3 separate regions of the Homo sapiens genome follow, and regions 1 and 3 are each linked to region 2. The links come from fine-mapping of genetic effects on gene expression. A gene starts in region 2. Each other region holds a variant in brackets. All regions are shown on one strand. Distances are between the middles of the regions.

The links.
Region 1: its variant is fine-mapped to the expression of DRD4 in thyroid (GTEx, PIP above 0.99). The same link has a PIP of 0.9 or more in breast, hippocampus and lung.
Region 3: its variant is fine-mapped to the expression of DRD4 in testis (GTEx, PIP above 0.99).

The regions. Positions count from the first base shown.
Region 1 is chr11:676,628-686,516 of GRCh38, reverse strand. DEAF1 (DEAF1 transcription factor) reads left to right here. Exons shown (of 12, transcript NM_021008.4): 6 at 1,554-1,619; 7 at 5,428-5,554; 8 at 6,701-6,829; 9 at 7,695-7,823. Among named protein-coding and RNA genes, the nearest start is that of DEAF1, 14 kb to the left of the region's middle. RefSeq lists enhancers at 6,911-7,411, 9,339-9,838. The variant G/A (reference allele first, on the strand shown) is at 4,144.
Region 2 is chr11:631,439-641,770 of GRCh38, reverse strand. It overlaps DRD4 (dopamine receptor D4), which reads right to left and starts at 4,502. Exons shown (of 4, transcript NM_000797.4): 1 at 4,182-4,502; 2 at 2,226-2,338; 3 at 1,465-2,123; 4 at 1,065-1,370. The coding sequence starts at 4,466. The coding sequence ends at 1,168. RefSeq lists enhancers at 355-966, 967-1,578, 1,944-2,477, 2,478-3,012, 3,013-3,546 and 4 more.
Region 3 is chr11:578,314-588,645 of GRCh38, reverse strand. It overlaps PHRF1 (PHD and ring finger domains 1), which reads right to left. Exons shown (of 18, transcript NM_001286581.2): 2 at 7,040-7,154; 3 at 6,565-6,684; 4 at 1,182-1,387. The coding sequence starts at 7,133. Among named protein-coding and RNA genes, the nearest start is that of PHRF1, 7.0 kb to the right of the region's middle. RefSeq lists enhancers at 3,882-4,381, 4,382-4,883. The variant C/G (reference allele first, on the strand shown) is at 5,524.

The DNA of each region.
Region 1 (9,889 bases), 45 kb before region 2:
TGTGACCCTTTCAAAGTCACCTAACTTCTCGTCAGTCTACTAAGAAAAGAGGACTTCTAATTCCTATTCCAGTTTAGCTCCTTGGGTGTTGTTAAGGAAGCAATTCCTGTAGAGACTTTTGCAAATCTTGAAAGGAAAGAGGTAGGTCCTGCCACCAATAATGGCATTGTGAAAAGGAGAAGGCTCTGGAAATTACTGTTTTTGTGGTTTTTTTTTTTTTTTTTTGAGACAGAGTCTCACCCTGTTGCCCAGGCTGGAGTGCAGTGGCTTGATCTTGGCTCACAGCAACCTCCACCTCCCAGGCTCAGAGGATTGTCCCACCTCAGCCTCCTGAGTAGCTGGGATTACAGGTGCCCGCCACCACACCTGGCTTTTTTTTTTTTTTTTTTAATTTTCAGTAGAGATGGGGTTTCACCATGTTGGCCAGGCTGGTCTTGAAGTCCTGACCTCAGGTGATCTGCCTGCCTCGGCCTCCCAAAGTGCTGGGATTACAGGTGTGAGCCACAATACCCGGCCTATTTTTTTTGTATTTTTTAATAGGGACAGGGTTTCACCACGCTGGCCAGGCTAGTCTCGAACTCCCGACCTCAAGTGAGCCACCTGCCTCGCCTCTCAAAGTGCTGGGATTACAGGCGTGAGCCACAATACCCGGCCTAATTTTTGTATTTTAATGGAGACCAACCATGTTGGTCAGGTTGGTCTTGAACTTCTGACCTTAAGTGAGCCACCCGCCTCGGCCTCCCAAAGTGCTGGGATTACATGTGTGAGCCACCACACCTGGCCTGGGCATTACCTGATTTCTCACAATTTTTTTTTTTTTTGAGGCAAAGGCCTCCCTCTGTTGCCCAGGCTGGAGTGCAGTGGTGTGATCTCAGCTCACTGTAACCTCTGCCTCCCGGGTTCAAGCGATCCTCCTGCCTGAGCCTCCCAGGTAGCTGGGACTATGGGCATGCGCCACCATGCCCAGCTAATTTTTGTATTTTTAGCAGACACGAGGTTTCACCATGTTGGCCAGGCTGGTCTCCAGCTCCTGAGCTCAGGTGGTCTGCCTGCGTCGGCCTCTCAAAGTCCTGGGATTACAGGCATGAGCCACCATGCCCGGCCCTGATTTTGCAGAATTTTTATCTTTATGAGGTTGGGCACGGTGGCTTACGCTTGTAATCCCAGCACTTCGGGAGGCCGAGGCGGGCAGATTGCTTGAGGCCAGGAGTTCGAGACCAGCCTGGTCAACATGGCAAAACCTGTCTCTACTAAAAATACAAAAATTAGCTGGGTGTGGTGGTGCAAACCTATAATCCCAGCTTCTTGGGAGGCCGAGGCATGAGAATTGCTTGCGCCGGGGAGGCAGAGGTTGCACTGAGCCGAGAACGTGCCACTGCACTCCAGCCTGGGCAACCCAACAAGACTCTGTCTCAAAAAAAAAAAAAAAAAAAAGAATTTTTATATTTATGAATGGTAGGTAAGTGGTAAAAGTGGTTGAAATCTTCTATTATTGAATGATTGACATTTAGGGGCTGACTTGCTAATGCATGGTGGTTCTTTTCACATCTCAGGATGGGATCTTAAACCCTCACGCTGCCTCTTGCACCTGTGCTGCCTGCTGCGACGACATGACCTTAGTAAGTGGCCAGCGTGTCTGGAACAGGATGACTTGGTGGGGCTGGGGGCGGCTGAGTGGGTCCCACAGCCCTTGGCCTCTCGGCTGTTTCCCTCCTGCCCTCTGCCTTGGAGAGAGACACTGTCCTCACTTCTCCTGGGTTGCTCTGTTCCCTCCTCCCTGATACGTCACAGTGAATCCTGATGTCTCGATGGGGAACACGTGGTTGGCCCCCAAGATGTTGCTCAAAGAACATTTGTGGAAACCTTAAATAATGAAAAGCGGTTATAATGTCACCGCCTTAACTCTAAAACTAAACATACACGCTTTTCCTTGTATGCATGCCATTTTATATTCCTCATTTTGTAACATGTCAGAAAAATGCTACTGTAAACTTATTCATGTGTAGAGCTTTTAACGCCTTTTTGACGTATTTCCTTATTCTAAATTCTTAACTGCTTCACAAAGACCCAAAATAATTTTTCTTTCTTTTTTTTTTTCTGAGACGAAGTCTCATTCTGTCGCCCACACTGGGGTGCAGTGGCGCGGTCTCGGCTCACTGCAACCTCCGCCTCCTGGATTCAAGCACTTCTCCTGCCTCAGCTTCCCGCGTAGCTGGGATTACAGGCATGTGCCACAATGCCCAGCTAATTTTTGTATTTTTAGTAGAGATGGGGTTTTGCCATGTTGGTCAGGCTGGTCTCAAACTCCTGACCACATGTGATCCGCCCGCCTCAGCCTCCCAAAGTGTTGAGATTACAGGCGTGAGCCACTGCACCTCAAAAAAAAAAAAAAAGAGCATGGAGAGACCTACCGTGTTCTTGGGGTGAAACACTAAACATCCTAGAATTGTGTAGTTGATATATAGATTTCATGTGATTCTAGTGGAAAAAACAATTTTGTGAACGTAAAATAATTTTGAAGTTGATTGGGAAAAGCCAGTCGGTGAGACTCTTAGAGACGCTGCAGGAGTAAAGGAGCCGGGAGGAGACGTCGGTCCCATTGGCAGTTGAGCCTGCAGGTAGATCATTTGCAGGGGCTCCAACACTGAAGTACTTAGATGTCAGTCTAGGAAATCATGTACAGGGTTTGTACGTGGAAGATACTAAAGAAAATGCTGAAGAGAGAGACCAGGGAAGATTGAAATACGTCAAAAGACGTCCTGCGCCCGTGGATTAGAAGACTCAGTAAAGATGCGACTTTTTCCCAAGTTGATTCGTAGGTTTAACACAATGACTATCAAAATCCCAGCAGGATTCTTTTTAGATGCAGACAAGCTGATTCTAAAATTTGCATAGAAAGGTAAAGGAAATAAAAAAGCCAAAACAGTTTTGAAACAAAAAAGCCAAAACAGTTTTGAAATAAAAGTTTAAAATGGGTGGAATCACATTGCGGGGTCTTAAGACTTACGGGCTCGTGACAGTAATCAAGATAGTGTGGCACTGGCAGAGGGAGAGACCCCACGATCTGGGTCAGACTAGAGTGTCATAGTAGACTCCAGCAAATGGCCTTGGAGTGACAGGACGTTCATCAGCAGAGACAAAGGATGACCTAAACTTCACACTTGGTACAAAAATGAATTCAAAATGGGTCATCGATCTAAAGTGAAAGGTGAAACTATAACATTTTTAGGAGAAAACACATTGGAAAATCTTCCTGACCTGGAGTTAGAACTAGGATTTCTTGGATTGGACTTCATCAAATTTTAGAACTTTTGGCTTCCGCTTGGGGAGTGGTGGTGTGATGAGCTCAGTGGACCAACTCTCCAGAGAAATAACTAGTGAAAATTGTGAAAAAATAACCCCTTAAGGTCTCCAGAAATTGTCCTAGGGGAGTACAGCAAATAAACATCCAAGAAAATGTAGTAAGTCTTGGAAAGGGCAGTGAGGATTGTGACGTTTGAGCTACGACCAGCTCCTTCCCTCCCTTTCTGCCCCCAGCTCCCTATGGTGGAGGCTCCATTGTGGGTGGTTGTGACCAAGAAAACGGTTCCCACTCCTTGCAGTTCCCGGTCAAGGGATATGGTATCTCACTGGGAGGGGCAGGCCACCAGCATTTCTCAACCCCTTCAGCTCTAAGTTGCAGTAAATTCCTGGGAAGTGTGACTGAAAATCTCTTCAGTCATCCCCACTCAGAGGGCAGAGGCTTTACCCAGGCATGGGAGGCCAAGCATACGGAGCCCCAATTTCCATCAACCCACATTGCCCATAGGGTGGGGTGTCCATGCAGTGAGAGGCTGCTGCCCCCCACACAGAACCCGGCTAATGCAACAGAATTCCCTCTGATAGACTCAGGCACTGTTCCTGCCTCTAGGTCTATAGTAGGGGCTCAGACATTCAGCCCAAAAGAGAGAGAGGCCGTAAGAACAGAGAGCTCCAAAGCCCCTCCCAAAGGAACTGACTTGATTTGAAACAGTATGGGGATGTTCAAGCCTAAAAGTGCCCTGGAAAAGAATGGACATTTTGATGGTAAGCAGTTAAGAGGAGGCCAGCAGTTCCATTAGAGCAAGAAACTAAACTGTAGGTCAGCAGGTTTACCAGAGAGGC[G/A]AGGAAAGCCACAGCGAAGAACCCATCTGGGAAACCGACCTTCAAGATCGAACCTCTCAGTAAAGAAGCCCTAATTTAATTGGCTCAGACAGTGGAGCAGTGTGTGCCCCAGGGCATTGTTGAAAGTAATGGAGCAGGCAGCTGGCAGTTAGTTGATTCTGACACTTGACTACACCAACAGCTTAACAGAGATCAGGAAGAGCGACAGCCAAAACTCCCACCACCAAAGGTGATTGCACCCCACCCAGGGCCGAGCCCTCAGAGGAGCAGCAGCCGAGGCCGCCCCAGGAGAACAGGCTCAGTAAGATAGTCCAGCTCCGTACCTGAGTAATAAACAAGCTGACAGCAGCAAGGATCCCAGAGAAAGGAGAACTGCTTTCCACTGTTGCTACAATGTATCACCTGCGGTGTCTGATTCTTAACAAAAGATGATAAGACATGCAAGGAGCCTTGGACCATACACAGGAAGAAAGCAGGCAACAGAAATTGCCTGGAGAGGTCCGGATGTTGGGGTTAACAGGAAAAAGCTTTAAAATGGCTATCCTCAGTATGTTCAGAGGACTGAAGGAAACCACAGCTAGAGATTGCATGGAAGGTCTGAAGACACTGTCTCCTCACTGGAGAATGTCAATGAAGAGATATAAATTATTTAAAAAAAAAAGTCGGCCGGGCGTGGTGGCTCACGCCTGTAATCCTAGCACTTTGGGAGGCCGAGGTGGGCAGATCACGAGGTCAGGAGAACGAGACCATCCTGGCTACCATGGTGAAACCCCGTCTCTACTAAAAATACAAAACACTAGCCAGGCTTGGTGGCGGGCGCCTGTAGTCCCAGCTACTCGGGAGGTTGAGGCAGGAGAATGGCATGAACCCGGGAGGCAGAGCTTGCAGTGAGCCCAGATTGTGCCACTGCACTCCAGCCTGGGCAACAGAGCGAGACTCTGTCTCAAAAAAAAAAAAAAAAAGAAAGAAAGAAAATTAGCCGGGTGTGGTGACACATGCCTGTAATCCCAGCTACTCAGGAGACTAACGCAGAATCACTTGAACCTGGGAGGCGGAGGTTGCAGTAAGCCAAGATGGCGCCACTGCACTCCAGCGTGGGCAGCTAGAGTGAAACTCCGTCTCAAAAAAGAAAAAGAGGTGGGATCTTTAGGGGCGCTTACCATCTTAATGTGGTCTCACCATGTGACTCACACACCCCGCGGTGCCCCCACTTAAGGAGGAGTTGCAAGCGCAGCATAGCTTTTGCACACATGAAGGTGGTGGCCTCTCTCCTTTCTCCCCCAGAGTGGCCCAGTCAGGCTTTTTGTGCCTTACAAAAGGCGCAAGAAGGAGAATGAACTGCCCACAACTCCCGTGAAGAAGGACTCCCCCAAGAACATCACATTGCTTCCAGCCACCGCGGCTACCACCTGTGAGTTTGAGAAAACACAGCTCTAGTTTACTGAGGGGACCTGAGTGCATTGCCTTCTCTCGTCACCACTCCCACGGCCACTGCGGGATTCTCACTTCTAAAGCACATTGCGTGGCCAGAGGGATTCCAACGCCATCACACTCCTTTGCAGTGCGTCCCCCGGGTGGGAAGGGGTGTCCCAGTGCCCAGCTCGGTCTTGCTTCCCTGGGACCCGGACACTGTTGGCCTTGTCCTGGGCTGTTTCCTAGTATGAGTGAGCATGGCTGAGTGCCCAGCACACGCTCAGGGGACGTTTCCTGACAAGGGCGTCCTTGGTGAGGGATTCTCAGTGCGCTGGACGAGGGCTGCGGAGAGCTCTGTGGGTCTTTCTCTGTGGCCGGGCTGGAGGGCGGCGTCAGGATCCCGGCTCGCTGCAGCCTCGGCCTCCCAGGCTCAGGCACTGCTCTCACCTCAGCCTCCCAAGTAGCTGGGACCACAGGCACGTGCCACCATGCCCAGCTAATGTTTTTATTTTTTTGTACAGACAGGATTTAAATGGGGAGAGGTAGCAATAGGAGAAAATGTCTTTGTAATAGGCTTTTGTTAACTAAGTCTGGGTTTTTGCATTTATAGAGTAAGGTCTTTCTAAAACACCCTGTCAGCTCCTTCCTGAGGCCCTGGGTGGTGGGTGCAGGAAGAGTCCCACAGCAGCAGAGTCTCAAGATCTGTCGCCAGGATTTTTTTTTGAGCTGGAGAGGCAGCCTTGCTGTGGGACACAGGGCAGCCTTGCTGTGGGACACGGCTGCTTTTTACCTTCAGCTTGGATTAAAGATTTTTTCTTAATTCGAACCACGAAGTACTTAAAAATCACTGAAAGTTTTATTTTATGTTTGTTTTCTGGCTGGGCAGCACATTTCCATGGTTCACAGTTTAAACAGCGAACAATTGGTAGTGGCAAGTTGCCATCCTGGCCATCCTGGTTTTCTCCTGTGAGGTCTTCTCCAAGGTCTGGGATTTCCCCCGTGTCCTTCACATGGGAGGGTACAGTTACCACTGCCCGCCCTTCAGCCCAGGCCCCCACAAGGATTGGCGCCCGTGGGTGGCACGGGACCTGTGTGCCGTGGGCGCCACTGCCTGGCCGCGTGAAATGTGCTTCTGCCTTTCCAGTCACCGTGACCCCCTCGGGACAGATCACGACCTCGGGGGCACTGACCTTTGACCGAGCGTCCACGGTAGAGGCCACTGCTGTCATATCAGAGAGTCCGGCCCAGGGCGACGTCTTCGCAGGGGCCACAGGTGAGCTGCTCCAGTGCCTGCCTGACGCGTCCTCAGCATATCCCTGTCTGTGACATCACATCCCCGACGCCACATTGGGCTGCATAGGCTGCTGGGTGCCTCGAGAGGGGCCTTGAACCAGGCGTTTGTTGGTGGGGACAGCGTGTGAGCCACGTCAGGTGGGCGGTGCAGTGTGGATGGGGTTGGCGTGTGGCAGTGGGTTACTTGTGACAGATGCCAGAACTGGCAAAGCTGAAAATACTCTCTGTCTGCCGGCTCCTGCTTTTGACTGCAGTTGTGCAACAGAAATGCAGCCTAGCTGGTTGTGTGCTGGAGAATATTCTAGAAGCCACACTGAGGAAAATAGAGTTAGAACTGATTTTTTTTTTTTTTTGAGGTGGAGTCTCGCTCCATCCCCCAGGCTGGAGGGCAGTGGCATGATCTCGGCTCATTGCAAGCTCCGCCTCCCGGGTTCACACCGTTCTCCTGCCTCAGCCTCCCAAGTAGCTGGGACTACAGCGCCTGCCACCATGCCCGGCTAATTTTTTTTTGGTATTTTTAGTAGAGACAGCGTTTCACCATGTTAGCCAGGATGGTCTCTATCTCCTGACCTCGTGATGCGCCCATCTTGGCCTCCCAAAGTGCTGGGATTACAGGCGTGAGCCACCGCGCCCGGCCTGATTTTTATAATCTATTTTATTTCACCTGATATAGCCCCAATCCTATTATGTCAACGATTCAGGATCACCACATTTCAGGGGCTCAGTAGCCACGTGTGGCCATAAGCTACTATGTGTACTGAATGGCGCAGCCATACAGCGTGATATTTAGAGTCTGCTGTGCGGACAACCATCCCGAGCCTCCCTGTCCTTTTTCTCCCCAACAGTCCAAGAGGCCAGCGTGCAGCCCCCATGCAGGGCCAGCCACCCTGAGCCTCACTACCCCGGCTATCAGGACAGCTGCCAGATCGCACCGTTTCCAGAAGCTGCGTTGCCAACGTCACATCCCAAAATAGGTAGGTTTGAAAGAATTCACACATGTACAGGTTATTGTCCTCAGAATTGCTTCCAATGAAAGAATTCCTAAGTGAAATGGGATTCATTTTGGTTTGGTTTGTTGTTTTTGTTGATGCATTAGATCAGTGGCTGGTAAAGTGTGGCCCACTGCCTATGTTTGTAAATAAAGTTTTACTGACACACAGCCACGTCCATTCATGTGTGTGCTGTGGAAGTTGCTTTTGGTACAGCAGCAGGGCACGCCCCTAGAAACCAGTTGGCCTGTGAAGCCTGAAGTTCTTTCTGGTGAGTTTGCTGTTGTCCTCTTGAGGGTAGACACTCCCCAGTGGCAGGTCTTGGTCTCTCCAGAGCTGGCATAGACATTCGGTATCTGGTGAAAGAAAGAAAAACCAAGGCCTAAATGTGGCCTAAATCTTTAAAATGACGATACACTGTAAATGCATTCTAACTTTGATTTTTCGTTTAACTGCACTTCTATTTTTTTGAGACTGAGTCTCGCTCTATTGCCCAGGCTGGGGTGCAGTGGCGCAATCTTGGCTCACTGCAACCTCTGCCTGGTTCAAGTGATTCTCCTGCCTCAGCCTCCCAGGTAGCTGGGATTACAGATCTCGAACTCCTGACCTCAAGTGATCCATCCGCCTCAGCCTCCCAAAGTGCTGGGATTACAGGTGTGAGCCACCACATGCAGCCAAGATTTCTGTATAATTATACGTTTTTTGTTTTTTTTTTTGAGACAGAGTGTCACTCTGTCGCCCAGGCTGGAGTGCAGTGGTGCGATCTCGGCTCACTGCAACCTCTGCCTGCCAGGTTTAAGCAATTCTCCTGCCTCAGCCTCCTGAGTAGCTGGGACTACAGGTGCACGCCACCATGCCCAGCTAATTTTTTTTTGTTATTGTATTTTTAGTAGAGATGGGGTTTCACCATGCTGGTCAGGCTGGTCTCAAACTCCTGACCTCATGATCCACCTGCCTTGGCCTCCCAAAGTGCTGGGATTACAGGCGTGAGCCATCGTGCCCAGCCATCATTATACTTTTTTAAAGGGTGCATATGATCAATACATGATTGATTGAACCCTCCCCTGCTGGTGGCAAATGCATGTTTTCCATTTTTCACTGTCACAGACAGCGCAAGAAACTTGTTCATGAAAAACTTACCTTTTCATTTTCATTTGCTTGTTTCATTATTCTCTCTTTTGCCTATCTAAACTCTTTCCATCTTTAAAGCTTACCTCAGGGCTGGGCGTGGTGGCTCATCCTTTTTTTGTTTTTTTTTTGAGATGGAGTCTTGATCTGTTGCCCAGGCTGGAGTGTAGACTTCAGGCACGCGCCACCATGCCCGGCTAATTTTTGTATTTTTAGTAGAGATGGGGTTTCACCGTGTTGGCCAGGATGGTCTTGATCTCTTGACCTTGTGATCTGCCTGCTTTGGCCTCCCAAAGTGCTTGGATTACAGGCGTGTGGCTTACCTGTTTAATCCCAGCACTTTAGGAGGCCGAGGCCAGGAGTTTGAGACCGGCCTGGGCAACATAAGGAGACCCCATCTCTATTAACTGGAAAAAAAAAAAAAGTGTGGGGTGGGTGTTGGTGAAGTATTTATACCAAGAAATCAGCAAATGCTTGAAATCAGAGCTTTTTCTCCAGGAGGGCTGGGGTTCGCATCGACCGCTTGCCCCTGGTACAAGGTGTGCATGTGGCTCCTGGATCTCTGTCCCCAGGTGCCCTTGGTGGGCAGAAGTCAGAAATGTTCTCATGTGCACGTGTGCGTGTTTGTGCTCCAAATCTGTGTGTGTTGAAAACCATGAGTTTGCCCCAGTGTCTCTAGTTCCAGTGCAGAACCTCAGGGTTTGTGCTAGTTCCTTTGTAACTTTCTTCTCCAATTGTAAGAAACCCCGCTGGGCGTGGTGGCTCACGCCGGTAATCCCAGCGCTTTGGGAGGCCGAGGCGGGTGGATCACCTGAGGTCAGGAGTCCGAGACCAGCCTGACCAACGTGGAGAAACCCCATCTCTACTAAAAATACAAAATTAGCCAGGCCTGGTGGCAGATGCCTGTAATCCCAGCTACTCGG
Region 2 (10,332 bases):
CTTTAAGGGATCCTCCTGCCTCAGCCTCCCGAGTAGCTGGGATTACAGGCGTGACCACCACACCCAGCCTGCACTGAGTATTTTAGCAAGCTGAGGTTGTGCCCAATGCTGTAGACTGCACAGCCCACAGTCTGTCAGTGTTCAGATGGGAGCCTGGCACCCTGACTGGCCACCCTGGCTGCAAACGCCGAATCCCCAGCACAGGAAAGTTCCAGCCAGCACGATTGGGAGGCGGAGGGTCCCCCATTTCTCCCACAACCTGGGCCTGGGAGAGAGCTGGATCCAGTCCAGGGTAGGCTGTTCCTGCATGGAGGGCCCTGGGAGCCGCCCCTCTTCCCCCAGGGTCAGGGGCTGCACTGGTTGATGGAGCCAGGGTGCAGACAGGCAGCTTGGGTCGCTCTGCCCAGCCCCTGGCCCCGCTGCCGCCTCCCTGCTCCCACCCCTTGGCCCAGCCACATTGGTGGACGCTGGGCAGAGGTTGGCTGGGCACCAGGGGTGACTGAGCACGGAGCTCCCTCCAGGGAAGCCACTTGGTGGGGCCCCACCCATCACCACAGGCCCCTTGCTGTGGGGCTTGGGGCATCCTCTGGCCAGGGACTGGCAGGAAGCTAGGCTCTGGCCTCAAGGCAGCTTCTAAAATGACAGGTTGGGCTCCCCTGCCGGGGTCTGCTGGGGCAGCATGAGCCTGGAGCCCCCTGTGCCTGGTTCTCAGAGGTGGGAGTTGGCCCGGGCAGGGCCTGGCGGCTGACAGCCCCCCACCCCGCCTCTCCCCATTTGTTTCTTCCCATCGGAACTGGGCTTCCCCAGGAGACACCTTGCCCTGCTGGGTGCTGCTTCCTCTCCCCTGCAGAGAGGGGAAGCTGGGCCCCAGCGCTGCGGAACTGAGTGGCTCTCGGGGGCCCCTTCCCCCCTCACCCTGAGCAGGCGGCCGGCTTGGTGGGGTCTGCTCTGTGGGCTTCCTTGGCGGGGAGAAAGAGGTTAACTGGCTGGGGGGCCTGGGGCCACTGAGGCAGAAACCCCTCTTCCCCACTCCCCATCAGCCCCCAGGAGCCTTCACAGCTGAGTTTGGGAAGGAATTTGTTTAATTAACGTACAAAAGCGCCCTCCCCATCTCCTTGGTCCCTGAGGCCTGGCCATCAGGCCGGGGGGCGTCCGGGGGTGCCCGGCTCAGCAGCAGGCACGCAGGGCCTTGCGGAAGACGTTGCGGAACTCGGCGTTGAAGACAGTGTAGATGACGGGGTTGAGGGCGCTGTTGACGTAGCCCAGCCAGGTGACGGCGCTGACCAGCCGCGGGGGCACGGAGCAGGCAGGACACAGCGCCTGCGTGATGTGCACCACGAAGAAGGGCGTCCAGCACAGCAGGAAGGCCCCTGGGGGCGCCGAGAGCCGCGTTAGCGCCCCCCGCCCAGCCGGCCTCGTACCCCCCCCCTCCTCTCCTCCCCGCCCCTCAGGACAGGAACCCACCGACCACCACCGGCAGGACCCTCATGGCCTTGCGCTCCCGGCCGGTGATCTTGGCACGCCGCCTCCTGCGGGTCTGCGGTGGAGTCTGGGGTGGGAGCGCGGCGGCTCTGACGGCGTCGGGGGGAGCACAGTTGGAGCCGCAGGGGTCCGGGGGGAGGCCGGGCGCGGGGGGCGCACAGTCGGGGCCGCAGGGGTCCTGGGGGAGGCTGGGCGCGGCGGGCGCACAGTCGGGGCCGCAGGGACCCCGGGGAAGGCCGGGCGCGGGGGGCGCACAGTCGGGGCCGCAGGGGTCCTGGGGGAGGCGGGGCGCGGGTGGCGTGGGGGAAGGCGGGCCAGGGCCGCTGGGTCGGCGGGGCGCGCGGCCGTGCAGCTTGGCGCGACGTGCCACCTCCCAGCGCTGCAGGCCGCGGAACGTGGCCCAGTAGAGCAGCAGCATGAGCGGGCAGGGTAGGAAGAAGGAGCACACGGACGAGTAGACCACGTAGTCGCGGTCCTCCAGGCGGCACACGGCGGGGTCGCGGCCGCGCACGTCGTTGAGGCCGCACAGTACGGGCGCCGCCACCGCCGCGGACAGCAGCCACGTGGCGCCGATGAGCAGCAGCTGCCGGCGGCTCCCACCCTGCCGGTTGTAGCGCAGCGGCACGGCCACGGCCACGAACCTGCGGGGAGCGCCGAGGGGGCGCCGGACAGCGCACAGGCCGCGGTGAGGGCGGCGGGCGGGGCGCGGGGGCGCCGGGGCGCGGGCGGGGAGGGCGGCGCACCTGTCCACGCTGATGGCGCACAGGTTGAAGATGGAGGCGGTGCACAGCATGACGTCCATGGCCATGAGGGCGTCGCACAGGCGGGGGCTCAGCAGCCACGCGCCACCCTGGACCTGCGCGGCGACACCACAGGCCCTGAGGTTTCCCAGCCACCGCGGGCCCTTGTGACCCGCCCCCACTCTTATGGGTAGTTCCAGGGCTGAATACGGAGAAGGGGGCCCGGCTGTGAGCCAGAGGCCAGAGGACCGGGCAGGGAAACACCCCTTCCCCACGCAGATCTCCCTTTGTTTTGAGTTAGGGTCTCGCTGTGTCACCGCGGCTGGAGTGCTGTGGCTCCATCATGGCTCACTGTAGCCTGGAATTCCTGAGCTCAAGCGATCCTCCCACCTCAGTCTCCAGAGTAGCTGGGATTACAGCCGCGCGCCACCACCCCCGGCTGATTTGTTTTTCTTTTTGTTTTTTGAGACGGAGTTTCGCTCTTGTTGCCCAGGCTGGAGTGCAGTGGTGAGATCTCAACTCACTGCAACCTCCGCCTCCCAGGTTTAAGCGATTCTGCCGCCTCAGCTCCCCCGAATAGCTGGGACAACAGCCGCAGCCACCACCCCCGGCTGATATTTTAAAATTTTTTGTAGAGACCAGGCCTGGTATGTTTCCCAGGCTGGTCTCAAACTATCCTCCTGCCTTTGCCTCCCAAAGTCCTGGGATTACAGGCGTGAATCACGGCTTCTGGCCTTGGTCTCCCTTTTGTTACAAACATGAGAACGGCCTGGGGAATTCCCTGGGGGCGGGCCTGATATCATCGGGCTCAAAGGGAGCCCCTCCCCAGCCTGGGGTAGGCAGGGTCCCCGCTGGGCCTAGAAGCGAAGCTGGCTGCTCTGTTGGCTAAGTTCTCTGTGGGAGACTCGGGCACGTTAATTCATTTCTGTTTCTTCATCTGTAAGACAAGGGTGATGATAGTATCCACATCATAATTGTCTTGAAGATAAATTATAATTAAAAATATGAAGACCGTGCCCAGTGCCCAGCGTAGGACTCCACGTGGAGTGACTCTCTCCAAGGGCAAAGGAGCAGGCAGCCCCTCTAATCCTTCCCGCCGATTTGGGGAGATTAGGAGCTTAAACGTCGTCACTGTGACGTCTGCGGCTCGAAAGGAGCACAGGTCACGCGTGTCCCGTGCTGCTGGTCTCTGCCCCAGCCGCCTGGATTCACTGTGTCCATCAAGGGGAAACCTCGAGTCCCCCTCCCCCACAGTCGGGGACACCGCGTCTCCAGCTCAGCCCTAAGCTGCTTTTCTCTGGCCGCAGAGGGGCTGGCACCAAGGCCGACCCACTCGAGGGCCAGACCTGGTGTGGAGTGTGGGCTCCATCCCCCAATTCCCCCTCAGGCTTCCCCCCAGGGTTCTCAGCAGGGGCCTGGTCCCCACACACCCTCCCCTCCCCTGGGTTTTGTCCAGCCCAGGTCTCCCCTGCGAGCTGTGAGCCTCCTTCTGGGGGTGTGCCAGCATCTGCACTAGGTGTGTGTGGTGGGCAGTGGCTGTGGCAGTGTGTGTGTGTGTGTGTCCCACGGCAGCCAGGGGGCTGAGCCTGCATCTGCCTGTCTGTCCAGCTGGCTGCCCTGGAGGTGAAATCCAGCTACGGAGGGGACTGGGCTTGACAAAGTCGCCTGTTTCCGGGGTCCCTGGATAGAAGGACGGGCATCTCCTGGATAACAGACGCCAAGACAGACGGGGAAGGAGAAGAGGAACGAGGGTCGGGGGACAGACAGCGCAGCGGGTGGAAGGTCGCGAGGTGGCGGCGGTGGGTGTATCGCCGAGGGACAAGGCGCAGCGCCCCTGCCGCCGCCCCAGCTGGAAGCTCCGCACCAGAAAGGGGCCGGGTCGCGCCGGGTCCTCCGTAGGGACAGGGACGGGGAACCGAGGAGCAGGTGAGGATGCTCGTGCGGCCGGACGCGGCTCACCTCGGAGTAGACGAAGAGCGGCAGCACCAGGAGAGCGAGGAGGAGGTCGGCGGCCGCCAGGCTCACGATGAAGGAGTTGGTGGGCGTCTGCAGGGCGCGCTCGGTGGCCACGCTCACGCACACGAGCGAGTTCCCCGCGAGCACCGCGCCGATGAGCAGCACGCCCCCCACCAGCGCCGCCGCGCCCTGCCCAGCCAGCCCCGCAGATGCCCCCGCAGATGCCCCCGCGGCCGGCCCGCGCCCAGCCAGCAGCCCGTCCGCGTCCGCGGTGCTGCGGTTCCCCATGGCGCGCCCGGGCGGGCGCTGAGCACCGCGGACAACGCCGGGTCGCAAGCCGGGGAGTCCCTCCCCTCGGGCACGCCCCGGCCGGACCCTGGTCCCGCCCCCGACCCGCCCCGGCTCAGGGGGGCCCCCGCGGCGCTCCACCGTGAGCCCAGTATTTGCTCATCTTGGAATTTTGCGCAGGGAGAGACGGGCACGTGGACGAATGCGGCGGCCCAAAGAGACGGGAATGAAGCGAGGTGGTGGCCACGGGCAGGCCAGCATCGCCCGGCGCCGCGCGGGGTCCGCGACCCGAGAAACCGACAAGGATGGAGGGGCGGCCAGACCAGGCCCTGAAGCGCGCGGGCATCGACGCCAGCGCCATCCTACCCGGCCCGTGCGTGCGTCCCGGCCCTCGGGCGCTCACCCTAGTCCACCTGGTATCTGGCAAAACCTCCCTCCCAGGCCCGTTCCGCCAGACGCAGAAAGACCTGAGCTCAGGCTCTGCCCGCCTCCCCCGCGGACTCGCCTCGACCTCGTGCGCACCCTCCACGCCCGCTCCCCCTGCCCCCGACTCCGCGCCCGACTCAACCGCCGACGCCTAGCTCATCCCGCCGCCCCCCCCCCGCAGCCTCTGGCCCTCAGCCCCCGCGACCACCACGGTCAGCCGCGGCCCCACCCGTTGCACAGTTGATCCTCGCGTGGCCGCCTCCGAAACTGGGCGGACAGCTGAGCGGTCGACCCCGCTCCCTCCTCCATTCCCTCCGGCCCAAGACCGTGAGCTAGGTAGGCGCCCCTCTGACCCTGGGCAGGGGGTCCCGGGACCGGACAGTAGGTTCGGCTCGCGAGGAGGCCAGGAGAAAGACACGACAGGCCGGGGTAGGTTCCAAACGTGCAGAAGAGAAAGTGCTTGCAAAGCGCAGCAGAGAATTCTATGGACTCTTCACCAAAGAGGGGTGACCTGTGACCTGAGAGGTATTTTCTGTAGTCTGTCACTAAGGGGCCTAGAAGACACTAAAAGGGGGCACCACTCTGTGGGACCCCAGGCGGCGCACATCCTGATGCTCTAGTCTGTTTCTGGGAGGCCTGGAGTGGAGGGGCTGTGCCAGGAATTGAGGCCCCTGACCTCGAAGGTCTGGAGGACACGGGCTAGACGGAGGCGCTGACAGGGCGTGCGTTAAAGGGAGAAATGAGGACTCTGAGAAGGAGCAGGCACCGTGAGCCTCACAGGACAAGGTCACGGGGCTGCGGGGGAAGGGCCTGCACCAGGGACAGGTGTGCACAGGCATCAGGTGCGGCCGCAGCCAGGCTCAGTCCCTCTTGTGCAGATCAGTCTGCTGCCCTTGTGAACCCTTGAGCAAAAGAAGTCACCACAGGAGAGACCACCAGGGACAGGTGTGCACAGGCATCAGGTGCGGCCGCAGCCAGGCTCAGTCCCTCTTGTGCAGATCAGTCTGCTGCCCTTGTGAACCCTTGAGCAAAAGAAGTCACCACAGGAGAGACTGGGACAGTGGAAGTTTCTTCTCTCCCAGGATGGAACCGGGGAGGGTGGCCCTGGGGTCTCCGGCTGGGCGCCAAACGGCGAGTCCAGCCCAGCCTCTGGTCGGCTTAGAGTTCCTTCAAGTAGCCCCCAAGATGTCTGCGACCACCAAGAGTGAAAACCAAGCTAGGCGGAGAAAGGATGTGTGCAGCACACATCTCTGACACACAGATCCAGAAACAATGGAAACAATGAGAAAAGACAGACAACCCCAATTTGTTTTTTTTTTTTTTTTTTTTTTGAGATGGAGTTTCACTCTTATCACCCAGGCTGGAGTGCAGCAGCACAATCTTGGCTCACTGCAACCTCCGTCTCCCGGGTTCAAGCGATTCTCCTGCCTCAGCCTTCTGAGTAGCTGGGATTATAGGCGCCCGCCACCACGCCCGGCTAATTTTTTTGTATTTTTAGTAGAGACACGGTTTCATCATATTGGCCAGGCTGGTCTCGAACTCCTGACCTCAGGTGATCCACCTGCCTCAGCTTCCTAAAGTGCTGGGATTACAGCTGTGAGCCACTGCCCCCAGCCTCCACTAAACTTCTGTTGTTTATCTGAAAATCAAATGTAACTGGATGTGATCACATCTTACTGCAATCATGGCTCACTGCAGCCTCAATCTCCTGGGCTCAAGTGATCCTCTGGCCTCAGCCTCCTGTACAACTGAGACTACAGATGCGTGGTGCCACACCCAGCTAATTTTCTTATTTTTTGTAGAGACGGGGTCTCGCCATGTTAGCCCAGCCGGTCTCAAACTCCTGGGCTCAAATGATCCTCCCACTTCAGCCTCTCAAAGTGCTGTGATTACAGGCATGAGCCATACAGCCAGCCTAAACAATTTTTAATGAGGACCTCCACTCATACCTTACACATTAAAAAATTAACTCAAATATGCTGTCAGGAGAATCAAAAGACACAGACCAGGAAACGACATTTGCAAATGGCCACGTCTGGCAATGTTTCTTCCATTTTAGTGTAGTAGGACGTCGTTGATTTTCCTGATGGCTACTCATGTTTGACCACTTTTCCCATGTGCCTGTTAACTGTCAGCATGCCCTCTTCTGGAATGTGCCTGTTAAAAATCTTTGCTTTTGTTAAAAATTGGGTTGTCTACGCCAGGCGCAGTGGCTCACACCTGTAATCCCAGCACGTTGGGAGGCCGAGGCAGGTGGATCACCAGGTCAGGAGTTCAAGACCAGCCTGGCCAACATAGTGAAACCCCATCTCTACTAAAAATACAAATAATTGGCCAGGCGTGGTGACTCACGCCTGTAATCCCAGCACTTTGGGAGGCCGAGGCAGGCAGATCACAGGGTCAGGAGATCGAGACCATCCTGGCTAACACGGTGAAACCCTGTCTCTACTAAAAAATACAAAAAAATCAGCCGGGCGTGGTGGCGGGCACCTGTAATCCCAGCTACTGAGGAGGCTGAGGCAGGAGAATGGCATGAACCCGGGAGGCGGAGATTGCAGTGAGCCAAGATTGTGCCACTGCGCTCCAGCCTGGGTGACAGAGCAAGACTCCGTCTCAAAAAAAAAAAGCCGGGCGTGGTGGTGTGCACCTGTAATCCCAGCTGCTTGGCAGGCTGAGGAAGGAGAATCACTTGAACCCAGGAGGCAGAGGTTGCGGTGAGCGGAGATCACGTCATTGCACTCTGGCCTGGGAAACAGAGCAAGACTCTGTGTCAAAAAATAAATAAATAGGCTGGGCGAGGTGGCTCATGCCTGTAATCCCAGCACTTTGGGAGGCCGAGGCAGGCAGATCACGAAGTCAGGAAATCGAGACCATCCTGGCTAACACAGTGAAACCCTGTCTCTACTAAAAATACAAAAAATTAGCCAGGCGTGGTGGCGGGCACCTGTAGTCCCAGCTACTCGGGAGGCTGAGGCAAGGGAATGGCGTGAACCCGGGAGGCAGAGCTTGCAGTGAGCCAAGATCGCACCACTGCACTCCAGCGTGGGCGACAGAGCGAGACTCCGTCTCAAAATAAATAAATAAATAAATAAATAAATAAATAAATAATAAATTAAAATTAAAAAAGAAACAAATTTTTTTTAAAAATTAGCAATCATATATCCAGCAAATGGCTTGTATACAAAAAAGATTAATAATTCTCAAAACTCAACAGTAATGATATCACAAAAAGAAAATTCCAAATGAGTATCCTTTATGAATATAGATGCAAAAGTTCTCGAAAAAATATGAGCAAACACAGTCCCTTTTAAAGTGCTGCCTGCCAGAAAAGCAGCATTTTTTTTTTTTTTTTGAGATGGAGTCTCACTCTGTCACCCAGGCTGGAGTGCAGTGGTGTGATCTCGGCTCACCACAACCTCTGCCTCCCGGGTTCACGCTATTCTCCTGCCTCAGCCTCCTGAACAGCTGGGACTACAGGCACGTGCCACCATGCCCAGCTAATTTTGGTATTTTTAGTAGAGACAGGGTTTCACTCTGTTGGCCAGACTGGTCTCAAACTCCTGACCTCATGATCCGCCCACTTTGGCCTCCCAAAGTGCTGGGGTTACAGGCGTGAGCCAGTGCCTGGCCGAAAAACAGCATTTTTAAAAGGATTATGTACCATAACCCAGTGGGATTTATCCCAGGAATGCAAGGGTGAACGAACAGACGAAATTCAATGTCATACACCACATTAACAGAATGAAGAAAAACCCACGCGATCATCCCAACTGATGCAGAAAAAACCATTTCATAAAATTCAAAACCCTTTCATGATAATAAGACTCAATAAACTAGGAATAGAAACAAACTTCATCAGGCCGGGCGCCGTGACTCATGCCTGTAATCCCAGCACTTCGGAAGGCCGAGGCGGGTGGATCACTTGAGATCAGGAGTTCAAGACCAGATGCCCAACATGTTGAAATCCCATCTCCACTAAAAATACAAAAATTAAAATTAGCTGGGCATGGTGGCGCACGCCTACAGTCCCAGCTACTCAGGAGGCTGAGACACGAGAATTACGTGAATCCAGGAGGTGGAGGCTGCAGTGAGACGAGATCGCACCACTGCACTCCACCCTGAATGACAGAGGGGGACTGTCTCAAACAAACAAACAAAATACAAACACAGCTAACATCATACTCAATGGTGAGAAACAAAAAGCCTTTGAAAGAGACAAGGATGCCCACTGCTGCTGCTTCTGTTCAACATTGTTCTGGACATTCTAGCAAGAGCATTACTCAAGAAAAAGAAATTAAAGGTATCCAAAATTGGAAAAGAAAACTATTTCTACTTGCAGATGACATGGTCTTATGTATAGAAGATCCTCCACAACAGGCCAGGCTTGGTGGCTCAAGCCTGTAATCCCAGCACTTTGGGAGGCTGAGGCGGGCGGATCTCAAGGTCAGGAGATCGAGACCATCCTGGCTAACATGGTGAAACCCCGTCTCTACTAAAATTACAAAAAATTAGCCGGGCGTGGTGGCGGGCACCTGTAGTCCCAGCTACTCAGGAGGCTGAGGCAGGAGAATGGCGTGACCCTGGGAGGCGGGGCTTGCAGTGAGCCAAGATCGTGCCACTGCACTCCAGCCTGGGCAACAGACCAAGACTCTGTCTCAAAAAAAAAAAAAAAAGAAAGACACCCCATCTCTACTAAAAATACAAACATTAGCTGGGTGTGGTGGCGTGAGCCTATAGTCACAGCTTTTTGGGAATCTGAGGTGGGAGGATCCTTTGAGTCCAGGAGGTTGAGGCCGCAGTGAGCTGTGATTGAGCCAACATATTCCAAGCTGGGCAACAAAGTGAGACCCTGTCTCAAAATAAAATAAATAATGAAAATGAGTAAAGGACTTGAATAGACATTTCTTCAAAGAAGATACCCAAATGGCCGGGTTCAGTGGCTCACGCCTGTAATCCCAGCACTTTGGGAGGCCGAGGCAGGCGGATCCCTTGAGGTCAGGAGTTCGAGAACAGTCTGGCCAACATGGTGAAACCCCGTCTCTACTACAAATACAAAAATTAGCTGGGTATGCTGGCGGGCGCCCATAATCCCAGCTACTTGGGAGGCGGAGGTGGGACAATCGCTTGATCCCGGGAGGCAGAGGTTACAGTGAGCCAAGAACACGCCACTGCACTCCAGCCTGGGCAACAGTGCGAGACTCTGTCTTAAAAAAAATATGGCTGGGCACGGTGCCTCACATCTGTAATCCCAGCACTTTGGGAGGCCGAGGTGGGCGGATCATGAGGTCAGGAGATGGAGACCATCCTGGCTAACATGGTGAAACCCCGTCTTTACTAAAAATACAAAAAAATTAGCCAGGCATGGTGGCGGGCACCTGTAGTCCCAGCTACTCAGGAGGCTGAGGCAGGAGAATCGCCTGAACCTGGGAGGTGGAGGTTG
Region 3 (10,332 bases), 53 kb after region 2:
GCAGTTTGGGAGGCCGAGACGGGTGGATCACCTGAGGTTGGGAGTTCAAGACCAGCCTGACCAACATGGTGAAACCCTGTCTCTACTAAAAATACAAAATTGCCCTGGCGTGGTGGTGGGCACCTACAGTTCCAGCTACGCGGGAGGCTGAGGCAGGAGAATCGCTTGAACCCGGAAGGTGGAGGTTGTGGTGAGCCAAGATCGCGCCATTGCACTCCAGCCTGGGCAACAAGAACAAAACTCCGTCTCAAAAAAACAAAAAAAAAAAGAAAAGTCTAAGTCTGAATCTACTGTGTGCTGTGGACCCACCACAACAGAACAGGAACAGGAAGTACCAGAGCCAGACTTTGGGTGACATCACAGCCTGCCACCACCAGCAGCATGAGGAATGTCTGGGTCCTGCTTCAAACTAAGCATACAGGCAGTTTTCAGCTACTCAGTGAAACAGAACAGGAGGACCCAGTCACTAGGAACCCTGGGTGAGGTCACGGTCCTGAAGAGAGCCGGGGACAGCACGGGCTGCTGGTGCAATCGCAGGGAGGGGAGGGAGTCAAGAGGTAGTGGTGTCGGAGCTGAGCCCTGAGTACAGAGGTCGGGGACTCATGAGTCATCCTCAGACTGCAAGCTCTCCTTTTCTGACATTTTTCACAATATTCAGAAAGGGAGGGGGGAGCTGACTGCTTCTAAAAGTTCATTTTGAAATATAAAATACACTGCACGTTTACGGTAAACTCTATTCACCTGTTTTAAGGACAGTCTCTTTTGATGCCAGTTATTGTGAATGAATGCCAAATCGTACCGGTGTTTTCTGTATCAACTGAGAGAACCACATGTCAAGGCAGCAAAGTGACCACGCACCACAGCACACCTGCCTCTGGCTTGCAGGCCAAGATGGCCCCTATGTCAACCAGGGTTTCTGCAGCTGGTCCTGGGAGACCCACGGCCATCCTCTCTCCTGCCCCTGACCAATACACCACAAACGCCTCACATGAGCTCACCCACACCCCCAAGAGCCATGGTGCTCACAAAGCAAAGACCAAGCCAGACTCAATCCTGTGGCCCCAGGGTCAGCCGCAGAGCAGACAACTAGAACCTCACAAGAGGCTGAACACAGGCTGGGTCACCTATAAACAGGGAGGCCATCCTGAAGGGAGGAAGCACCCAACCAGAGGTGAACTCACCTTGGACCATTCGACAATGCAGTCCAGGCAGAAGTAATGGGCACAGTTCTCCGGCGTCCCCACGGCCTGGTCTCTGAATGCGTTGAGACAGATTGGGCAGCTCTCTGCATCATCATCAGAATTGAAAGAGCCAGCGGCTTCCAGTTTCCCCTGAGTACCCGCTACCTCCAGCAATGTCTCCCCGTCGTCTTCAGAATCCTCGGAACCTGGAGAGGAAACATGCCAGCTGGTGCAAGCAGGATGGGCAGCGTGAACCGCGGCACTGGAGGCAAGCGGGCCCAGGCTGCGCTCAGGACACCAGGTCGGCAATGCACAGCCCACCTCCCCGCAGGCTCCTGCCACTTACCTCCACGTCCACGCTCAGCACATCCACAACCCTGGGAGCCCTGCCCTGCACCTAACCTGAAGCCTCGGGTGCCCTGCACCGAGGGGCGGGAAGCTGAGCGTCCTGAGTGCCAGACCAGCTCCTCTAAGCTGAGCCTGGGGCTGAGGCAGACCTCGAGAGGCAGGGCAGCCCTGGGGCCTAGCACAGGTCCCAGAGACCATCAGGTTCATTTCAGAGCCTCCAAGCGAGCCCCTCAGTGCAGCAGCCCCCTGACAGCAGCCCCCATTTCCAACGCCCCCTTCTCAAAGCATGAGGACCACAAACCCTCTGCCCGCGGAAGGGACTTCCTTCTGAGGTTGCCTGTTCCTCCTCCCTGTGGGAGGCAGAGCACAGACTCCTAACTGGGCCACTAACCACAACCGTTCTGGCCAATTCGGAGTGGTTCTGAGGCTACACCTTGACCAGCAGGGAGCAGGGAGATGCTCCGAGTTCAACACGGCAGAGCCCATACGTGCACTGCTATCTTCTTTGTACCAAACTCCAATGAAACAACGCTAAAGTAAACAGAACACAAGTTCACATGGGAAGAGGAGCAGACTCGGTGTGGGTGGCAGGTTCCTCCTAGGCCCGAAACCCTCCAAACCCTCCCGGTTCCACGCATGTGGGCAGGACCCTGCCAGCACTGGGGCATCACTGCCAGGACCCTCTGTTATCTGGCAAAGGGAAAGACACACCCAGAACAGAAATATTTACACTGTTAAAGAGGCTGGGAGAAGTGAGAGCTGCGAGGGAGGCAGCAGAAGAGTTTTAAGTTCCCATCTTTCATGTTAAGAGTTGAAGAGCTACTGGCCGGGCGTGGTGGCTCACGCCTGTAATCCCGGCATCTTTGGGAGGCTGAGGTGGGCAGATCACGAGGTCAGGAGATAGAGACCATCCTGGCTAACAGTGAAACCCCGTCTCTACTAAAAGTACAAAAAATTGCCAGGCGTGGTGGCTCAAGCCTGTAATCCTAGTACTTTGGGAGGCTGAGGCAGGTGGATCACCTGAGGTCAGGGGTTTGAGACCAGCCTGGCCAACATGGTGAAACCCCGTCTCTACAAAAAATACAAAAATAGCCGGGTGTGGTGGCGTGTGCCTGTAATCCCAGCTACTTGGGAGGCTGAGACAGGAGAATCGCTTGAACCTGGGAAGCAGAGGTTGCAGTGAGCCTAGACTGCACGATTGCACTCCAGCCTGGGCAACAGAGCAAGACTCCGTCTCAAAAATAAATAAATAAATAAATATACAAAAAATTAGCTGGACGCGGTGGCAGGTGCCTATAGTCCCAGCTACTTGGGAGGCTGAGGCAGGAGAATGGCGTGAACCTGGGACGCAGAGCTTGCAGTGAACTGAGATCGTGCTGCTGCACTCCAGCCTGGGCAACAGAGCGAGACTCGACCTCAAAAAAAAAAAAAAAAAAGAGTTGAAGAGCTACTACCTCAAGCTGGAAAGGGCTACTACCTCAAGCTGGAAAGGGCTACTACCTCAAGCTGGAAAGGGCTACTACCTCAAGCTGGAAAGGGCTACTACCTCAAGCTGGAAAGGGCTACTACCTCAAGCTGGAAAGGGCTACTACCTCAAGCTGGAAAGAGCTACTACCTCAAGCTGGAAAGGGCTACTACCTCAAGCTGGAAAGGGCTACTACCTCAAGCTGGAAAGGGCTACTACCTCAAGCTGGAAAGGGCTACTACCTCAAGCTGGAAAGGGCTACTACCTCAAGCTGGAAAGGGCTACTACCTCAAGCTGGAAAGGGCTACTACCTCAAGCTGGAAAGGGCTACTACCTCAAGCTGGAAAGGGCTACTACCTCAAGCTGGAAAGGGCTACTACCTCAAGCTGGAAAGGGCTACTACCTCAAGCTGGAAAGGGCTACTACCTCAAGCTGGAAAGGGCAGTGTAACAAGTGATTTCCAGCAGGAAACACCAGGGTGGGAAAAGCAATGAGAACGAAAGCTCCCAAGCCCCAGCAACGTGGGTGTTGCTCGTGGAATAACTCCCTCCTCAACATGTTTCCCACCAGTTAGGGACCCACTGGCTACTTCTTCATGTTTAAAAAACAGTCCTGGCCAGGCGCGGTGGCTCATGCCTGTCATCCCAGCACTTTGGGAGGCCAAGGCGGGTGGATCACCTGAGGTCAGGAGTTCAAGACCAGCCTGGCCAACATGGTGAAACCCCATCTCGAATAACAATACAAAAATTACCCAGGCATGGTGGTGCGCGCCTGTAATCCGAGCTACTCGAGAGGCTGAGGCAGGAGAATCGCTTGAACCCGGGAGGCAGAGGCTGCAGTGAGCCGAGATTGCGCCACTACACTCCAGCCTGGGCAACAAGAGTGAAACTCGGTCTCAAAAAAAAAAAAAAAAAAAAAAAAAGGTCCTGGAGAAATAAAAAGAAGTGTTCACAGTGGCTATACCAACACCTCTCCAGTGCCTTCCCATCCCCTTCCTTCGGGGCGCTCAGCCCTCAGGGGCTCCAGGTCTCCATAAACCTGTCTCTTCACAGCTCCCCCGTCCTGGCCTGCCGCCTCTGCCCAGCCACCTCCTCCTGCCCCTCAGGTGGCAGCTTGGATTCTCCAGAAGCCTCTCCCCACCCCAGGTCCATGGAGCCTGCCCCTCCCCTGGACGCCCACAGCTCTCAGTGTCTATGACCCTGTCCCCCAGCTGCTGCTTGGCGCACTGTTTGCTGCTAGAAGGTGAGCGCAGACACGGTGGGGGCCCTGCTGAGGCTCCCGCCACCTTCACTCCAGCCCCCAACCCAGAGTCTCTGGCATCCAATGTGCCCTCAGGATCTCAAGGACAGAGTCACCTGGCGGCCCTGACGGCCCACACTTTCAGCCCTGGCAACGCCAGAACTGGTGCGGAGACCTACTACAGATGAACCAGAGCCCTAACCTGATGCTGGGAGGGAGCAGGGAAGCCCCTCAGGACCTGCAGACCCAAGCAGACCCGCAGAGCACGTGCAGAGCTAAACATCGAACTCTGGAAGGACACGGCCAACACACATTGGCTCAGGCCATGAGTGCCATTCCCTTACCAACAGTCTCAAACAGGAGTGTTACCTTTCTGGAACATTCTAACCCTGATAACCACAGGGCTATGCAGAAAGACTGCTACACACAGATCACAGTAGCCACTTGAGGACCATGGATTTTCCAGCCCAAGGGTGATGTCAGAAGGAAAGTAGTGGAAAGGCAAAGTTCTGAGCCTGAGCTCGGCCTCCCTCTGAGGAAGCAACCACAGCAGGGCCGGGGCAGGGCCACCTCCTTGGTGGCCTCACAGGCTGTGCACCACCGAGGGTGATGGCAACAGGGGACAAGGAAGGAGGTACCACCAGCGCACCCCACGGACTTGTCTCCCCTTTGTTTTGTTTGAGATAACGTCTCGCTCCAACACCCAGGCTGGAATGCAGCCTCAACTTCCTGGGCTCAAGGGTCCTCCCACCTCAGCCTCCTGCGTAGCTGAGACCATGGGCCTGGGCCACCACACCCAGCGCAGACCTGCCCTTTGGAACATTGTTCTCTCAAAAGAAGTTCAAGGGCACAACCATCAGCCAATTGTAAGTGAGCTGAGAATTTTTTATCTTTTTGAGACAGAGTCTCGCTCTGTGGCCCAGGCTGGAGTGTGGTGGCGTGATCTCAGCTCGCTGTAGCCTCGACCTCTTGGGCTCAAGCGATCCTCCAACCTCAGCCTCCTGAGTAGTGGGGATTACAGGCACGCACCACCACGCCCGGCTAATTTTGGTGGGGTTTTTTTGTTTGTTTTTTTTGAGACAGAGTCTCGCTCTGTTGCCCAGGCTGGAGTGCAGTGGCGATCTTGGCTCACTGCAACCTCCGACTCCCGGGTTCCAGCAATTCTCCTGCCTCAGCCTCCCAAGTAGCTGGGATTACAGGCGCGTGCCAACACGACTGGCTAATTTTTCTATTTTTAGTAGAGACGGGGTTTCACCATGTTAGCCACAATGGTCTCGATCTCCTGACCTC[C/G]TGATCCGCCCGCCTCGGCCTCCCAAAGTGCTGGGATTACAGGCGTGAGCCACCGCGCCCAGACAGCCAGAATTTCTTTTTCTTCCTTTGAGATGGAGTCTCGCTCTGTCGCTCAGGCTGGAGTACAATGGCACAATCTCGGCTCACTGCAACCTCCACCTCCTAGGTTCACACCATTCTCCTGCCTCAGCCTTCCGAGTAGCTGGGATTACAGGCGTCTACCACCACACCCGGCTAATTTTTTGTATTTGTAGTAGAGAGGGGGTTTCACTATGCTGGCCAGGCTCGTCTTGAAAAAAGGCCGGGCGCGGTGGCTCACGCCTGTAATCCCAGCACTTTGGGAGGCTGAGGTGGGCGGATCACGAGGTCAGGAGATCGAGACCATCCTGGCTAACGCGGTGAAACCCCATCTCTACTAAAAATACAAAAAATTAGCCAGGCTTGGTGGCGGGCGCCTGTAGTCCCAGCTACTCGGGAGGCTGAGGCAGGAGAATGGTGTGAACCCAGGAGGCAGAGCTTGCAGTGAGCCGAGATCGCGCCACTGCACTCAGCCTGGGCGACAGAGCGAGACTCCGTCTCAAAAAAGAAAAAAAAGGAGGACTACAGGCCAGGCACAGCGGCTCACTTGAGGTCAGGAAGAGTTCCAGACCAGATGGTGAAACCCCGTCTCTACTAAAGATACAAAAAGTAATTAGCCAAGTGTCATGGTGCGTGCCTGTAATCCCAGCTACTCACGAGGCTGAGCCAGGAGAATCACTTGAACCCGGGAGGCAGAAGTTGCAGTGAGCTGAGATGGCACCACTGTACTCCAGCCTGGGCAACAGAGCGACACCCTGTCTCAAAAAAAAAAAAAAAAAAGAAATGAAGTACTACAAATAAAGTGAGCCGTCACCACAGCTGAATATAAGGCCTCACCGTAGGTGACCGCAGGGACATGGCCAGCTGTGGTGACAGCACTCTCACGGAGGATGTGTTATAAAAGGCTGTCCCCATCACGACAAGAGGAAACACAGGAGCCGGCGTGAACACCAGCTGTCTCACCAGATCTGTCTTCCAGGTCTTCCTCCTCAGACGCCCCCTCGTCTTCTCCGTCTGTGCCATCTCCATGCTCGCTGTCACTGTCGTCCCCAGAGTCCCCACTGCTGCCCACGCTGCTTTCTTCTAGACACCAGGGTGAGACACAGGCCGCAGGGCGGCGTCAAGACCATGCAGCAGAGAGCAGGTTGCTTTGCACAGGCATAGAGGCGTCAGGAGCACCTGCCAAACGGCTAACGGCTTCCCCAGGGCCGGCAAGGTGGGGGCACAAGCAAGGAAAGGGAACATCCTTTCGTTCAACATTTGTGTTGTTTGCATTAAAAATAAAACAAAACAATACACTACTTCCGCAATTTAAAATCAAAGCATAATTTTTTTAGACTGAAAGTTGACAAGTGACACACACAGACGACCTCCAAAGGGAAACACCAGGCACCCTGCTCCTCCTGGGGACGCCCCTACCCGGCGCTAGGCAGCTCACCAAAGTCACCTGCCGGGTCCGCAGGGCCGACCTGTGGGTGTCCATCCGGCCCTGGGCTCCGGGCCACAAGCTCATCCAGGCTGTCGTCATCCATTGCTGCACATTGAGCTCAGCTCTGAAAGAAAGAAGAGCCAAGCAACTTCCAAACTGTCCCAGGCTGCAAAGAACCCTCTGAAGAGTTATGACCTCTCCCCACAGGCCACATCCCCGTGTCACATCCACCGCCACAGCACGTGAAGAGTGAGCCCTGAGATATCACCCACAGAACAACTCTCAGCAGTATCCCCACAGGCCACACCCCAGTGTCCCAGTGTCACATCCACCGCCACAGCACGTGAAGGGTGAGCCCTAAGATATCACCCACAGAACAACCCTCACCAGTAAGCCTTACACATGATTCACATTTACAGAGCTACCCATAAAGCCAGATCCTAGCTGGCCACTGTACCCGGCCAGAAAATAAAAATTTGTTTTTAACTAAAAAAAAAAAAAAAATTGGTCACGCCTGTAATCCCAGCACTTTGGGAGGCTGAGGCGGGCGGATCACCTGAGGTCGGGAGTTTGAGACCAGCCTGACCAACATGGAGAAACCCCATCTCTACTAAAAATATAAAATTAGGCCAGGCATAGCTGCTCACGCCTGTAACCCCAGCACTTTGAGAGGCCGAGGCAGGCGGATCACCTGAGGTCGGGAGTTTGAGACCAGCCTGGCCAGCATGATGAAACCCCGTCTCTACTAAAAATACAAAAATTAGCCAGGCGTGGTGGCGGGCGCCTGTAATCCCAGCTACTCGGGAAGCTGAGGCAGGAGAATCGCTTGCACCTGAGAGGCGGAGGTTGCAGTGAGCCGAGATCGCGCCACTGCACTCCAGCCTGCGCAATAAGAGCAAAACTCCATCTCAAAAAACTGCAATGCTCCTGAGGAATCGCAACACCATATACGAACAAAACGGCCTCATCCTGAGCTGAGGCAGAGCCGGGCTTTATCAGCTGGGCACAAGAGGGGCCTCAGTGACACGTAGGGTGCTCTCCCTGCCAAGGCTGGCCACTGTTGGGATGCCTGGAGGCTCCTCTGACCGCACCCCAACCCCATCCACCAGGGTGCTGCTGAGTCCCCAGTGGTACCCAGAGCTGAGGAGGCAGAAGGCACAGAGGCCAGGCCCACCCCTCGGCTCCCAAGACCACTTGCTCAAGGCCCTGACCCGTCAGCCGGGACCCCTGCCCTTCCCACTCTGCAAGGTCACTGTGAAACCACACAGGATCCCGTACAAAGCCTTGGGAAATCTAGTTGGACACGCTCCTCCTTCCACACCAGGGCCTCAAACTTTGGTCCCAGATAAGAAAGGAGATACGTGCACGTGGTTCATTTCTCATCAGTGCTATTGACCTTGTTTCCCAGGCGACTCTCGGAGGAAAGGCCTGTCCTAGGAGAGTGAGTCAGGAATCCAGCGAGGCAGTGAAGCCGGCCCTGCAGCACTCTGTTTCCCACCAAGTCCAACCTCCATCCATGATCAGAGGAAAGCGCATCGCACAAGAGGCCAGGAAGTAGGGGGCCAGAGCTGCCCTCGAGTTCAGGGCCTCCTTGCATTGGAGCTCAGCTCCCACCACCACTGTGGGCTGCACATGTACCACAGCAACGGGGGAAAGTGGCTGTCAGCGCCACTGCTGTCTGGAAACCCCTGGACAACAAACCCTAACGGGGCTCAGAAACCAGGACGGCCTCACTTCCCATCTGACAAGACAGTGCAAAACCCTAGATTCTAAGATGATGCCTTATAAAACAGTGAAGAATGTCAACTCCATCCAACTGTCAACTGCCAAATCTTACTACTGCCTGGAAACAGCGATTGTAGAAGTAGTTTTGCCAAATTAGTAATTAACCTTTCTTCTACCTGCCACCCTAAGGTGAAAACACCTGGTCATGATCCCCGCTCAAGGCAGTCTGCACCCCTGGTGCTTGGTGGACCCAGCAACTCCGCAGAGACGCCCTGCTCGTCCCGCACCTGAATCCTAGAGACACTGGCTCTGAGAGACACACGAGGGCCACGGCCCATCCAGGAGGGTGACCCCTCTCCCACAGCATGCACTGAGACCTAGCAGTGACCACAGCTCTCAGATAAGAGGACCTTAACTCCCTGGCAATAGCTGTGACCACCCTGACAACAGACCCCACATCTTCCAGGACGCCTGCTCCAACACCTACCCTGCTCCTACTTTGTGCAGCACAAGGCGAATGCAGTCCCTGCCCTGGAGAAACATATCTGAAAGAGGGAGGCAGACTCTCTCACATGAATCTACCAAGGAACACTTCAAAGAGACCACCTAAGAGATAACAGAGCAGGGCTGGGGGGAGGAGCAGGGCTGGGGGGAGGAGCAGGGCTGGGGGAGTCCCAGGGTCCAACTGTCCCGAGTGCAAATCCTCATTTGATGATGAATTTCACATAGAAAGTAAAAAATGTGAATTGGTAGCCAGGTGCAGTGGCTCACGCCTGTCATCCTAGCACTTTGGGAGACCAAGGTGGGCAGACGGCCTGAGCTCCGTAGTTCAAGACCAGCCTAGGCAACACAGTGAAACCCCATCTCTACTAAAATAGAAAAAATGAGCCGGGCATGGCGGCGTGCACCTGTAGTCCCAGCTACTCCGGAGGAGAATTGCTTGAACCTGGCAGGCGGAGGTTGCAGTGAGCTGAGATCGCGCCACTACATGCCACTGGGCGACAGAGTGAGACTCAGTCTCAAAAAAAAAAATGTGAATCAGCCGGGCGTGGTGGCTCATGCTTGTAATCCCAGCACTTTGGGAGGCTGAGGCAGGCAGATCACTTGAGCCTGCAAGTTATGAGACCAGCCTGGGCAACATGGCAAAACCGTTAAAAACCAGGTAGGTGTGGTGGAAACCGCCTGTAGTCCCAGCTGCTCGGGAGTCTGAGGTGCAAAGATCACTTCAGCTCAGGAGTTCGAGGCTGCAGTGAGCCATAGTATGTGAACAAACAGCTCCTGGCCTCTCCCTTGATGCACTGAGATTGGGGACCACCTCCAAGGGTTAGGTGGGGCGACAGGCAATGGCAGGGCTTGCCCCAGGGCTGCCAGAAGAGATCAGTGAGGCCGTGTGGGGTTTGGCACATAGGAGCTGGCCAGAAATACCAGCTCAGGAATGAGGCTGAACTTTGCGAGTCCATGCACCTGTGGGGCTAAGTCCTGAGGCCTTTGAACTTTACCACAGCTGGTGAGGGAAGACTCCACGGGCCTCTTACACTCCTCCACCACAGCAGCAGGAACGTTCAGGTTACGTGAGG